Linked DNA regions of Homo sapiens. The protein of the gene in region 1 interacts with the protein of each later gene in a pairwise test. Each region holds a gene or a part of one and is shown on either strand. Other genes may lie near its edges.

Region 1 (7,819 bases):
TATAAATAAATATATTTATCTATATAAATAATATAGTTATATATTTTTTAAAATATAAATTTAGATGCTTTTATATTTTAATATGTAAATATGTATAAATTTTAAAAATAAAAATCATGTACAGACACTCAAACATATTCTTTTTTGTTCATTTGTTTTTAAATCTGAAGTATATATACTAGGACCAATAAAATCTGTCTGAAAAATATATTCTAGAACTGGAGGAGTCAAAAAAGTGTGTGTATGCCTGTGTGTGTGTGTTTGCCAAAATTAAAACTATAAAACAGCTAATAGGAAAGTTCATTCATCATAGTTTGGGGCACCCAGGTGTCTGTCAGCTCAGGCTCTAAGAAGGTCCTCAGGGGAGTACAGTAGGAAATTCACTGCCTAGGTGACACCCTTTCATGCATCAGGCTGTGGTAGTGATGGTTGCAAACTCACATGCATGCTGGGTGCAGATGAAGAACATAAGCGGGAAGCGGATGAGGGTGCTATGCTATGGGGGCGCTTGTGGGGACGGGAAGTGTGCATCCCTGTAATGTGGGCTCGGCACCAGCCTGGAGTGACCTGACTGGAAGGCCCACTTGGTATTTACAAGGGAAGCCAGACACTTATTTTTCCCTGTGAAATGTCAAGCTTTGTTAAATACACACACAGAAGAGTAACAAGTTAGTCGACACAGTCCCACTGTAGCTTACTGCCTGCTAGATGGAGTCTTCTCTCCTATGATGGTTCAGAACAACCCCTGCTCTATGCCTATGAAGTAGCACCATGACACACTGAGGAGTTATTCTGCTTTTATGACACTTTCTAATTAAACATAAAACGTGTTTTAATTGAACATGTAAGGTTTTTTTTGTTCTGGATAATAATTGTTGAGAAAAAGTCAAAAATGTTGCTTTCGTTAAATTAGCATCTTTCTCTCTTATACCTGTTCAGGAAGTATGCTTTATGGTAACAAATGGAAACATTCTAGGAAGAATATTTATACATTATTAATTCTCTATTTAATGTTGTTGTAGTCTATCAGGGTTATTTTGAAGTAAACACTGAAATCAAAAGAGTAATTCTAAACAAGTATGAATTCTGAATTTTTTTGGCTAATTAGAAAATTATAGAAAGAGGTAATATGTGTATAGGTTTAAGAAAAACAGAGTTTTCACAACACAACTGATTCTCTGACCATAGGTTAACAAGCTTGAAAAAGAACAGAAATTGAAACAACATGTTGAAAATCTGAATCAAGTTGCTGAAAAACTTGAAGAAAAACACAGTCAAATTACAGAATTGGAGAACCTTGTACAGAGAATGGAAAAGGTACGCCCCTGGAGAATTAGAGGATTTTCTTACTGACAGCATTAGGATGAGAATGAAATAAAATAATACTAAAATAAATAGGATATTAAATTAAATAAGATAATATTATGTGAAAGTATTCTTTACAATTCTTGGCCTTAGGAAGTATTTAATATTAATTTTTCCCATAAACATTTCATATGATCTATACTGTGGTGATTGATTTACCTTTCTGCAAATACTGTAGTCATATCATCATTTGTCACTTTCTCTTTCTAGGAAATATGTGACTTAGAAAGGGGAACCAGGTGAGGCTGTGAATGCAAATAATGGAAAAGATCACAAAGTCCATCTATTAGGAGTAATAATGTAGCAGTTCCCTGTAATCACAGCATTTTTATGTATTAGAGTCAGTGCAGTATCCATTTTTGGCCACCCAAGTCTACTTTGTGTTTGGAAAAACCTACGGCTGCACTAGGAGAGATACAGTTCACATTAAGAAAATCTATTCTATAGAAATTGGAACTTTAAGAAGGCATATTTAGAGAAGAGCAATAATAGAAGAAAAATTTTAAAATGTTTCATGCCATGTTCATTTAAGTAGCTGGCACTCAAAATATACACAAAAGGTGAACACATAAATTTGTGTATGTATGCCATAGAATTTAGAATTTGGACAAATCAAGGAATATTTTTTATTAGCAAAACAAAGAGAAAACTGGCATCTCTGAAACTGAATTGGGGATAGAGAAAAATATAGGCTTTGGATACTAGTAAATATTGCCCAATACATTTTTTATATTTATTGTATTTGCCTGTATTCTTTTTAGCTTTAATTTGTTTTATGAGTCTGCCTGGGTTTATGCCATTTTATAAATGTCATTTCAAAAACATCACATTTCAATATTCAGGTTTCTTACCAAAGGAAACTTGATTTGTTTAAAAATGTTTCCCAAGAATTTAAAGTTTTATGACATTGTGATTTGGTTGAATTTGTAGTCTTGGTGAAGCTCCTATGAGGAAATCACAAAAATTAAATATGCCCATTATCAAGTGGCTCTAAGATAATATTCAGCTGCATGTGTATTATGTGGAAGGTCACTGAGTGTTATACTTTAGCAGAATCACTGGGTTAGAGTCTCCTTAAGCAATTAGTTTATCCAGGCATGACAATTTATAATTATGCTGTGTTGGAAAAACTGTAATATTTGGTTGTATACTTGGTAGTGGTAGAATACTTGATCCTATAATAAATAGCTTAACAAAACTAAGATAGCACAAAGAATGTTTGCATTAAGGAAAGAAAGACAATTCTGGGAAACGAATAAATTGCTTAACCAAACAACTTGATTAACCAGCTTAAAATTTAAGTTTAGTCTAGAGCTCACGCCATCTCAAACCCAGTGATATTGGTCAGGTTTAGTGGCAACCGTCACTGCCCCCAAATTAACAAAAGAACAGGCTGGGCATGGTGGTTCATGCCTATAATCCCAGCACTTTGGGAGGCCGAGGTGGGCAGATCATGAAGTCAAAGAGATCGAGACCATCCTGGCCAACATGGTGAAACCCCGTCTCTACTAAAAATACAAAAATTAGCTGGGCATGGTGGCACGCACCTTTAGTCCCAGCTACTTGGGAGGCTGAGGCAGGAGAATTGCTTGAACCCAGGAGGCGGAGGTTGCAGTGAACCGAGATTGCACCACAGCACTCCAGCCTGGTGACATAGCGAGACTCCGTGTCAAAAAAAAGAAAGAACAGTGGAAGATAATTTCTATTTCCTAGTAATCCCAAGAAATGTGTACTAGATGTTAGTTCATCTCAGAGTTCTGGGGTATATTTACTTGACTGTTTACTAAACAAATATTTGAACACCACCATGTGTAGCATAGAACTAGGGGCTGAATATATATTTGTGAATGAACCAGACAGTCTCTTTTTGTGGAGATGACAATGTAGTATATCTGGATTGTGTGAGGCTCAAGGAACTTCCCAGATCTCCCTTTCTTAATTCCTCTATGAGTCCTTTAGGGAGGCTGAAAGCCCAGTCAAAGGCAGAGGAGCATGCCCCAGAATAAGGTTCAGTGGCTCAGATCCTGGCAGGACATTCTTGGGAAGTGATGGCCTATCTCCTGCCCTGATAATAACTCGCAACAGTGGGCTGTCTCCAGGAGATCTTGGACAAAGGAAGCAGACAGGATGCACATGGCTTAGTAAGGCCATGCAGCAACCTTCCAGAATAGTTCAGTGACTTTCTGGAGGGCAAGCCTACTGGAATCTCTGGAGGGTGGAGGTAAGTGTGGATGATGTGGAGGGGAAATGTGCAGTTTTATTTAAAATAAAAAATGATTTAGGCCAGGTGTGGTGGCTCACGCCTGTAATTCCAGCATTTTGGGAGGCTGAGGCAGGAGGATCGCTTGAGGCCAGGAGTTCAAGACGAGCCTGGCCAATATGGTGAAACCCTGTCTCTCCTAAAAAAAAAAATTCAAAAATTAGCTGGGCATGGTAGCATGTGCTTGTAGTCCCAGCTACTCTGGAGGCTGAGGCATGAGAATCACTTGAACCTGGGAGGTGGAGGCTGCAGTGAGCCGAGATGACGCCACTGCACTTCAGCCTGGGTGATACAGCAGGACTCTGTCTCAAAAAAAAAAAAAACCAAATTGGTTTAAAAATATTTTATATTTGTGAAACAAGCAAATAAATAAAACTATAAGGAATGAAGTTTGGCAACTTCTTGGTTTAAAGAGAGACTGAGAAGACAGGCTGTGAGGAAGGGTGTCTCAGGTGGGGAGCGCAAGCCAGAGTAAGGGGAGGGTGTACTGGGCCTTTTGTATTAATAGGAAAAAGACACAAGTTCAAAAAGAAAGTAAAACTTAAAAACAAACATCCTCACAAAGGTTGATAAATATTGGCCTGGTCGTAGGTGCCCCCTGGAGAAAAATTTACTTGCTACTCACTTGAACAATCCACCGCTCCAGTAAATAGCCATTAGTAGTATGAGGTCTGGTAATGAACATATTACTTAAAACCTTCACCGTCTGTCCCACTTTAATCAGGAATGCAGTGAGAATGAATTCCATAAGCACAGTGATAAGCTAGCAAAAATGCCCAATAAGAGCATTTTAATATGGCATATGTTCCGTTTGCTAGCAGTGCAATTCTGTTACATCATATTTGTTTTCTAGTGTCATTGATTTAGCTCCATTGCAATTTTAGAGCTCAAAGGCACTTTTGAGACCACCTAGTTCCTCATCATCATTTTATAAATGAGGACAGCATGAACCAGAAACTATTCCACAATCCTCCACTTTCTAGATCACAACCCTTTCCATTATGCCCCCGTCTTCTCTAATGCTGGACAAAAATGATAGACTTGGTTCCAAAACATTTAGATGTTAGCATTTGGCAATGATTGAAATTGGTGCCCTCTCCGATCAGCCTGGTGAGGGAAACCTGGAGCTGTCTGGAGGTATGGCTCTGGGAATAGTGGGGTTGCCCACTGTGTGGTGCTGTGAACTCCCTTTCCCTTTCCTGAAGACATTGCCTGAGAAGCGCTATCTGGTATGGTGAGATTTTCTGTATTGTCAAAGAGGAGGCAAAAAGAACCCAAGCTAGATGGCAGAGCCTGGCCAAGGGAGAGCATTTACTTGTCCGGTTGTCTGGTCCCCTTGACCCCTGTTTATGAAAATCCATTAACCAAGAGTAAGTCTATTTAACATTTGTTAGGCACTATTTTCCCTCACCCTACAAATTCAAAATACATTATCTGTGGTGTGTTTTTTTTGACAATCCAAGCCTTATCATACGCTTGTAAGATGTATCTGTGGGCCGGGCGCAGTGGCTTACACCTGTAATCCCAGCACTTTGGGAGGCCAAGGCGGGTGGATCACCTGAGGTCAGGAGTTCGAGACCAGCCTGACCAACATGGAGAAACCCCGTCTCTACTAAAAATACAAAATTAGCCGGGCGTGGTGGTACATGCCTGTAATCCCAGCTACTCGGGAGGCTGAGGCAGGAGAATCGCTTGAACCTGGGAGGCGGAGGTTGCAGTGAGCCAGGATCGCACCATTGCACTCCAGCCTGGGCACCAAGAGCAAAACTCTGTATAAAAAAGAAGGAAAGAAAGAGAGAGAGAGAGAGAGAGAGAGGGAGGGAGGGAGGGAGGGAGGGAAGGAAGGAAGGAAGGAAGGGAGGGAGGGAGGGAGGGAGGGAGGGAGGGGAAGGGAAGGGAAGGAAGGAAGGAAGGAAGGAAGGGAGTGAGTATCTGTGATCCTTCAGAAATAATTTGAACACAGCTAGGGAAACTCCAGGACAATTTCTATCTGGCAAGAATACTATAAGAAAAATTTGAAAAAGCTAATTTTAAAACATAACAGAACACATTAAGATTTGAAGTAATTAGTGCCTTCAAATTATTATATATTGAGGTCCAAATATGTGCCAGGAAGCCTGTATGCCTTTTACATATATTATCTCTATTATCCCAACATTTCAATATAGGTAATATTATCCCCATTTTAGGAATGCTCAGAAGATACAAATATAAGTCAAATGAATATAGAATGAATACAAGTCAAATGTTGTAACTAACTCATTAATTAATGAGGGAAACAGTAAGATGAGAAAGCTGGTTTAAATAAAATATTTTCAGAAACTAGCCATTTATAGGCATTTTGGAGAAAAAGTGAAAAATAGTATAGGAGTACTAGATTAAATTTTTAAAAAATGGTTAATATTCTTTAAGGCAATTAAATCATAACCTTTGGGATTATGTCTTCTACCGGACAGAAATCTACAAATTTACATGCAACTTCACAGACTCAGGGCTCTAATGAAATAATAAATAATAAAAGCGAACACAGGGAAATTCTCTGAGAGAATTAAATAAATCTTGGGTCAGATGATTAAATGATGACCCAATATGATATTAAAACTGCATGCTGTATATTGTTTTTATTTCCAAGTTTGGGTTAATTTTTCTTAACATTGGTAAGGCCCAGAGAGTTTAAAACCTCGGCCAAAATTTAGAAACCAGGTAAGTCCCTATGTACAGTCTTTGTGATGTTTCTTCTATACAGCACTGCCTTGCTGTGTACCACTCACTCAGATGCTGCAGCGGGAAGTAATTTTAAACAGCATTATGGTTTCGGCACGCCTCTTCCAGTCAATTCCATCCATGTTGCCAATACCAATTCCTGCCTTTTTTCAATCTCCCTTGATTCTTTCCAACTTGGCAACCTAAACCATCAGGCCAAAGCACCAAATTCCTTTTTTTCAGCTGAGTGCCATCAAATATAAAATGAACACAGTCATCTCAGCTTCGTTTTTCATGGTCTTGTCTGTTTTCCTTTTGGATGGAAAAGCTTTGGCTTAATAATCAAATTAAGGCATCTTTTTAAAAGATATTCTTTCCTAGCATCATAAAATTGCAATCTCAGTTTCTCCTGTATCCTAATTGGAAAGCAGTTGTATCCTTTGTGGCCTTGATCCTTCATCAAAAACATGTTTATTGCTTTACTACCTTCTGACAGATGCCAAGTAGTATGTAGAGGTATCTAGTGTCCTTGGATACCAACAAGTCAGTCTAATGTAGGCGAAACAGGTGTAAGGGTGGGAGAGCCAGGGTCTAGCGAGAGATGGGCAGGATGTTTACATGTGGTAGGATGGGGAGAGATTAGTGGGAGAGGTTGAGCTGAACAGGCTATGGGCAATGCCCTGGAGGAGGAGCAGAAGAAGTCCTCCAGGCAGGTGAGAGAGTGAAGACAACTATTTTTGGCCTATAGTTGAACTATGTGCAAAGCACACAGGAGAATACTTGGCCAGGTTTCCTTGAAGATGAGGAGTAACAGCACATGTGAAATTAACTCTTTAGCTCAAGCCATAGTTATAGTATGACAAGAGGAAGGCCTTACCAAACATACACATGCAGTTTAGCAAAATTTGTATCTTATTTTCTCCTAGGAAAAGAGAACACTACTAGAAAGAAAACTGTCTTTGGAAAACAAGCTACTGCAACTCAAATCCAGTGCTACATATGGAAAAAGGTTTGTGAAGCTACCTGTTAAGTAAAGGCAGTTCCTGATTTCTTTCCTGTCCACTGGTATGCCAGCCAGGGAACAGAAGACCTTCTGTCCCCCAAAGAAATAGGATGACTGACAGTGCAGGAGGAAGGTTGAATTCTTGGGATTAACAGTCATGTAGTTATGTGCCTCCCCTTCCTCAAACTCAGAGGAATCACAGGGCAGTTGGGAGCCGGGGGCAGAGTTCACTGGGGGTGCAGGGAACCCTGCAGGAAGGTTAGTCCTTCTAAAGAGTGAATGAGTGAGTGAGCCTGGCACCTCCTGGTTTACCATTTGTGCTAAGGAGGACGCTTGAGAGATCTTTATTCCCTGATGCTTCTGTGTTTATTAATGAGTCACTTCTACAGCAGATATTACACTGGCCAGCCCACAAGCAGAATTCTAAGACAGTTTCCTGATACTCCTTAATTCTGTAAGGTGAAGGAAATGCTATGGACAATATCCTT
Region 2 (7,819 bases), on another chromosome or scaffold:
CTCTCCTAAAGGGTTAAAGTGTATGGGCTTTATTTTCCAAACTGTCGCAAAGCACCTGCATTTTACTCTTGTAGGAGCAAAGTTTTTTGTTTTAGTTTTGTTTTGCCTACTTTCAATTCTTTGATCTAAACAGTTGCTGAAAACCTAATTTTTGTAAAATTTTTATTATTTGCTATAATTACATTTATTTAGAGTCTGGCTATATACTTTTTATATCCTAAATCATGGAAAATTGTTATCTAATGATGGAAGCTCTGACTTTTGGAGAAAGTCACATGTCATTTATACACATGTCCAGAAAAGTAAAATGAGTCTATCTTGGATCAAAAAATGAGTTATATTCACAAAAACATTATCTTCAATGGCTTGTAAAATGGTCTGAAGGCAAATCCAAAAGAAGAGTTCTCACACTGGCACCATACTGGAATGTATGTCTACCTATAAATCAACTTTGAAGGACAACAGTAATATGATTACATAATTTCTAGTAAGGGCTTAAAAGATCTAATCATTAAAATACAGATATAGTATACATGTGGACATTAATCCCTCTATTTGGAATTAGGCCCACAAATGGGCTTGTGAGGACAGAACGTTTTAAAATAATGGCTTAAAAATAATAGTCGATACAGGCCAGGCGCGGTGGCTCACGCCTGTAACCCCAGCACTTTGGGAGGCTAAGGTGGGTGGATCACGAGGTCAGGAGATCAAGACCATCCTGGCTAACACGGTGAAACCCCGTCTCTACTAAAAATAAAAAAAATTAGCCGGGTGTGGTGGTGGGCGCCTGTAGTTCCAGCTACTCGGGAGGCTGAGGCAGGAGAATCGCGTGAACCCAGGAGGCGGAGCTTGCAGTGAGCCGAGATCGCGCCACTGCACTCCAGCCTGAGTGACAAAGCGAGACTCTGTCTCCAAAAAAAAAAAAAAAAAATAGTAGTAATAATAATAGTCAATATAGAAAATAGTTATAATGACTAAGTTATAAATGGGTTTAATAAAGGTATTTTTAAAATGATTACCTTTTAAAAGGATATTTTACCTCAGTTTTTGTTTATTAAGAGTGGTTTTAAAAAGTCTAAGTTATTTCTAAATTCTCAAGGTTCAGCTACCTCTTATACTGTACTAGGAGATCAATATTATTTATCCAATTCATATAAACAGCCTATGTGTTTGTGAGTGTTAACCTACAGAAACAAAATGTCTCAATTACGTATTGTCTAGAAGTAAAATGTCACAATCATGTCTCAAAAATACATATGCCAGGTAACTGCTGATAACTATAATTAAATATTGTGATAGGCTCCAACAAATAATTAGGTAATCACATCATCTCACTGTCCGGAAATGTCTTAGAAGCAAATCAGAAATAAGTATACAAATACTATTTCTTCATTACTTGATCAGAATGCCAGGACATAAGGTACAGATTAAATCAGGGACAGTCTTGTCATTGACAGAGAAATCGCCCATTGTTTTCAAATTAGTACCTATCACATGCTCAAGTACTAGATGAAGTGTTAGGAGTACAAAAACTCCTAATATAGTAACAGAATGGTCAGCTAAACGTGTAATCACAATTTGTTCAAAATCGTTTTCCTTATAGATAGCTTATTAAATAAAAGATAGGGTAACATAAATCTATACTCAATTCTAAAATAAATTTAATTGGCAAAACCAATGAGAAAAAACTGATCAGCTGATACATCAGTGTACAAACATACAAATTGTACTAATTTTGGCTAAGTTCTACACAAATAAAGTATATATAACTATTTCAAAAATGAACATTCAACTCTAATTTTCATGAAGTCCTAATATTAAAAAAAATTTTAAAACTGGATTAATAGATCCTACCAAATATTTCTAAACCAAAAATCTTTGTTTTATGAGTAACCACTGAGAATACTTTGAAGCGCTCCATCAATGATGTGACTGCATTACCAAAGTAGAACTTTTGGCTCAGACCAAATGACTTAAAATTTCTTTCAGAATCTAGATATTGATCTCAATAGAGAACAGAATTGAATATATCTTTTCCTTAAATCAAGAAAATGATGGAACTCATCTTCTAGGGAACTCTACTGGTAAACTTAATAAATCTTATATTTCTAGAAGAAAAAGAAACATGTTTTATAGCATAAATATAAGCTCATAAAACCAATCTGGTTTTGTCAAGAAAATGAAGGAAGACTATTTTGAATGAGGAAATTGGACATGGGCAGTGTAGCTTCCTGTTTAGTTTTAAGACTAAATATAACCTTTGAAAAAAGCAGAATGTTTTCTACCATGTAAGTATCTACTAGTAGTCTAGTAAATGAAGACCAGATTTTCTTTATCGTAAAGTAGGAAGTTCTGAATGATCAAATCACTTTACCTTTCAACCTTTTCAAGTACACTGGAACATCACTTTTAATGCTTTTAGAATCCTCTTCTGTTCTTTCCCATAGCATTTGAGGAGGGTTGTTTTGTGCTAGCCAGTCAGCAACTTTGTTTTCGGGTGCCATCATTCCTGTTTGAATCCCCAGCAAGTCTTGAGTTCCAGGAGAAGACTTCTTGGACTTGTGGCGCTGATCAGAAGTAAACTTTGTCACATGGTCTCTAATAGTTACCTTCCCTGGGGTACTGTCATCAAATTCAATGGTAAATGAAGCATGCCCTGCACCTGTTATATGGGAACTTGGCGTGTCTTTTGTTGGGATTTCATGAATAGTGCTTTCTGTTATTTGTGATGGTTGCTGGAATTCTTTTGTAGGGATTTCAAAATAACTTGGTTCCCTACAGAAAGGAAAAAGTACTTCTTCATTTGCAGCTGCAGATTGTTCCTCAACTTGCTTGGCATCTATGCCGCACCCTAATGAGAAAAATAAGAGAAAATTCAAAATATTTGATTGCTTCTGGCACTTGAGGGAGTCTGGTAATGGCCATGTGTACTACTCCGTGAGAACCAGAAGGCAGATCACAGTCTGGATGAAAACCAATGGCATTTATATCACAGAACAAATGTCACAGAGAAGAAAGAATCTTGATTATAAACATGCGATTTGATTACCAATAGGGGATGGAAGATAAGCAGCAGCAATGGCAAATGAGAGCAAAGCAGTTAAGAAATGGATCTTGCATGGCTAGGTCCATATTTTTTCCAACCTGGATCTAGAATTCATCAAGGTCCAAAAGAATTAAAATAAAATGTAGATGGAGATGCATGTTCAATGTATATATAAAAAGTGACAGAAAAACCATGAACTCCCTTCTCAAGTCGCCAAGATGAGATATCTGAAATATATATGAACACATGTAGTGCTCCAAAGGAGAATAGGTGCTCAAATGAGAATACAAACATGAAGTAAATATGTAAGTGATCTTCTGGAAGTAATGATTCCACTTACCATTCTTCACCATTACATTCGGAAACATTACTTTCAGAATGACAAAGATATTGCTGAAGTGCGATCCTTGCAAGAAGATACAAACATTTTATAAAGACTAAAACATGTGGTTTGCAATCCAAGCAGCAGTGTGAACGAAATAAGGTTAAAATAGGAAATTCAGTTTCCAGACAATAACTCTGGAAGTTTACATTTCCATACAGCAGAATATGCAAAAGTGTCAAAATTCCTTGGAGGAAAGCTGAATTGTAAACCTCAGATTAACATGAGTTGGCAGAAGGAGCAAGCAACTCTGGAACACTATCACTATTCTTCTGTTGCCTCAGAATCTAATACAAAAGTATAGAAACAGATGCATTTATGAATAAAATACATAAATAAAAATGACAACTAAAACGTTTTCGGTACGCAAATGCAAAATAAAAAAATTAAAGATGCTATTGTCCTGTTGTTGAAGAAGCAAAGCATGTCCATTATCAAAATGAAGAGCAAGTTGAAATGAGACATATTTCCCTAAAGCTCAAAAATAAATTCTGCTTTTAAACAGATTAATAGAAAAATCACTTACAGACAATTTATTAGGAAAACAAGGCAATACAGGGAGACTAGGTTGTTTCCAAACATTTTCTAATTAAGTGAAGCGTTTGGTCTTTTGAAACATCTTTTCAAAAATTAAATTTTAGTGGGATCTGTCAGGTACTATAATTGGTTTCTTGACAGCAGTCTGAATATGAAATAATATAAAACCTGACTGCTTTTAGGTTACAGAAGAATGATATAGTAACATCTCTCTTTCATAATCAAATGTGTGGGATAGGGCACGGAAGACAACAAGCTCCATTTCCACAATAAATATAATAATAATAAATTGTCAAAAAAATCTAAACACAAGGCAAAGAGAACATATAATATGAAAGAATATATTGTAATTTTCACTGTGAAAAATTATCCCTTTTAAAATCTACTCAGCTTTCCTATCACTGAACATGAAAGAAAAGTATTGGAAAAACTCTACATTATCAGAGAAATAATCATACATTTATATGACATGACCTAAGTTTAAAAAAATGTTTGATTAAAGAGTTAATTTGTCTTTTTCTTAAAAATAAAATGTTCAGCTGGACTTGTGAGTGTTTACTCTGAAGTCATGTTAGTTAAAATTTCCATTAGAATAAAATGTATTAACTGCTTCTCATATATTAATAGTTCATTAATGTTATTTTTCTATTTTTTCAGACATTGATTTTTTTTTACTATGCACAATGTACTGTACTTGATCAAGTCCATACAGTACAACTGGTTCATAAACCTGTCCTCTCTCCCTCCCCCCATATAGATATATACATATAGTTTGTTTTTGCTTTGCTCATCCTTCAGGTGACAGAACAACGTCAAGATGGTAGTTTCTAATACCACTACACAGAGAGCCAAATAAAACTGATCCACTATACAGAGAGCTAAATAAAACTGATGTGGCTCAGCTATGAAGCAACACAAAAAAGCTGGCCAGGGATATAGCACTTATCAAGGTCACCTGTTTTGAAGGTCACCATTCCCATGTTAGTACTACTTCAAACTCGCATTCACTCAAAGCTAGAAACTTGAGACTTATACAAGTTAATAACTAATTCATCTAGAAATCAAGTACCTAACCAGGTCAAGTAGCACAATAGAGTGGAAAGGCAGCAGACTATGATCTGATGATCATAACCAGGCAGCCTGGTTTCATGCAAAGCCCAGACAAGATCTGAAATCAGATAAATCTTATCCCTAATCAGTCTGTAGTCCTCATTTTCCTCATCATAAAGTGAGAAAACAGTATCTTCCCATAAGATTGTTGTGAAGATTTAGTGAGATGAGTATTAAGTGAGATCATGTAAGTTACCCAGAACAAAGCAGGTACACAAATAAATGCTTCTCCCTCCACCTTCAAAAACAGCTGAGAATCAGGAAGACAAAAAGCTAATACCAAAACCCAACTCTAAAAAACCCAAGACAGATATGACAATGCCTATCCTTGAATATTCATAAACATTACTAACAGTTAAGATCTTCACCGAGAGGTTTTTACTATTTACTCAGATCACATGTAGCAAACCTTGGGCAGGGTACAAAAGTGAGGATTAAGGACAGACAAATTGCACCAAGTGGTAGAGACAAGATGAAAAACAAGAGCAGACAAATGGCCCCAAAAACATGATAGTCCAGTACCATTCAGTATATAGGGCAAACAGTCTTATATACTACAGTCTCCTGAGGACATTACTGTAAGGCAGTATCAGTATTATTATATTACTAATATATTTGATTATTGATTATATCAATATTGCTATTGCTATTGATATATATAATAGTAATACTGATATTGATGATTGATGATTTTGAGTCATAAGAAAAAGTTTTAAATTATACTGAAACTTCTCTGCTTAAGAAGGTGGTAATATGGGTAATTAATTTAATAGAAACTTAGGAAATGGTTAAACTTCAAAAAAACTATCAACTGTAAAAGTAAAGTTCAATCATCTGGAAAATTCATTATGTGGAAGGATTCATTTCCCTAAAGATGATAAAAACAGATGAAGTGTGGTCCAACTACACTTGAGAAGTACCTAATAGAAAACTATAAGGGGTCTTCTAATCAACACAGAAAAATAAAACACCTTTCCTCCCTCAGAACACTAACAGAACATATTCTGGAATTTAGAAATTTAACATTCATCTATCTTCAAAACTCATTTTGTTATACCAAATGAAACTAAATAATAGAGTAAATACTTGTTTAGACTAATATTATATTATTAATCTCAATTACTAGATTTTAAAAAATTATTTAATGATTGATTATGCCATAATTAATTCCATATATCTCAATCAGAAAAGCAATTGGTGATAATCTGCTTATGTTCTTAAGGTATTTTATGACTGTGTTACCTTAACACAATATGTTATAAGGGATACTTATACTTCATCCAGAATAAATGTTCTTTTCATTCTTCTGTACTAAATTCAATGAAATATTAAACTTATTTGAGATGACAAGGACTATAATTATAACAGCTCATTCTGCTTAAGACATCCATCTAACCTAGTCTGTTCAAGCATGTCAAATTAAGAAGACTGGGAAGCTCCTTTTGCTTAAAAGGAGCTACGACTTGAAAATTTCCAAATTTAGTTTCGCTGGATTAAAAATCAACATGAGAGAGCCAAAAATCTATGATTCCCAGTTGCACATGCCATTTCAAAATGTGTGCAACAGTTAAAGGCCTTTAATTATAACCTAAATTAATTGTTGAGACCAAGTTAGGAGGTAGAAAAGCATAGCTGTAAATAAATTGAGGACAAACTTTACGTCTTAATACGATTAAAAATAGTCACACAATTTCTGGAGAACGAAATTGCTCTAAAGTAAGTATTTGCTTAAACCAGGGCTTTTTAAGCTATATGGCAAGTCTTCGGGAGTTTCTGGATATATATGAACCCACAGAGAGGAACGTTAAAAATTACTAGGTAGCAAACACTCTATTATCCTTTCTGGAATGCAACTCTAAAAATTAATAACGAAGAAGCAAATCACTTTTTGCTTTCACTAAGAGTATGCTACAGGATAAATTATTAAACTAATCACGTATATTCCACAATTTGAAACTTAAAAAAAAAGTTTAAGTTTTTAAAAATACCTTAATTTCAAAATGACCACATTAAAGAACACTTGATATACATTTCAAATCTGATTCTACAATTTCTGCTGGCTTCATAAATTATTACAAGACAGTAAACTATTTTCCTCATCCTATATTTTAAAAAGCTGCAAATGATAAATCTGAAACAGTAATATCCTCATACTAACATAAGAAAGCAAGTGAGAGTCTCTTAAGGCTATTACTAATCAGCTGTATCTGACAGGGCACTTTAAGGAATTTGACACAAGACATAAATCACTGAATTATTACTCAAAAAGAACCCCAAGATCATGAGACGGCTTTTGGTCATCTAGCAGAAAGAGTACACAAGCTGAGAATTCAGTTACATTCATATAGATGAAAGTATTGCTGGATGCTTCACATTTGAAATTTATTTTATTATGCTGAGCTAGGAGGGATCAATTTTTATGGCTATTTGATTTTGGAGTATTTGTTTAAATCTTTGTACCCTATGAAGTATATCCTTTTAGAGTGATTGTGTTTACAAGAGTAATGATGGCTGAAATATTAAAACTTCTTATGGTTAAGAGCGTGGACTCAGGAGTCAGGCAATCTAAGTTCAAATCCCAGCTCCATTATTTGTAGTTGGGTGACTTTGACAAGTAAATTAATTTCAGTATGCCTCAGTTTCTTTATCTACAAAATCACCGTAACTGTACCTTTAGGTATTGCTGTGATGATTAAATAAATGCATACAAAGCACTCAGAAGAATGTTGGATAAAGTAAACCCT

The links. Proteins that work in one complex are often made in the same cells at the same time.
Region 2: the proteins of CCDC68 (region 1) and CEP170 interact in binary tests that used the Homo sapiens proteins (3 or more experiments, as listed by UniProt).

Annotation. Positions count from the first base shown.
Region 1 is NC_000018.10:54,928,318-54,936,136, reverse strand, and holds part of CCDC68 (coiled-coil domain-containing protein 68), read left to right. Parts: intron 1-1,188; coding exon 1,189-1,317; intron 1,318-7,254; coding exon 7,255-7,337; intron 7,338-7,819. UniProt on the Homo sapiens protein: Centriolar protein required for centriole subdistal appendage assembly and microtubule anchoring in interphase cells. Together with CCDC120, cooperate with subdistal appendage components ODF2, NIN and CEP170 for hierarchical subdistal appendage assembly.
Region 2 is NC_000001.11:243,188,644-243,196,462, forward strand, and holds part of CEP170 (centrosomal protein of 170 kDa), read right to left. Parts: intron 2,852-7,819; coding exon 2,375-2,851; intron 1-2,374.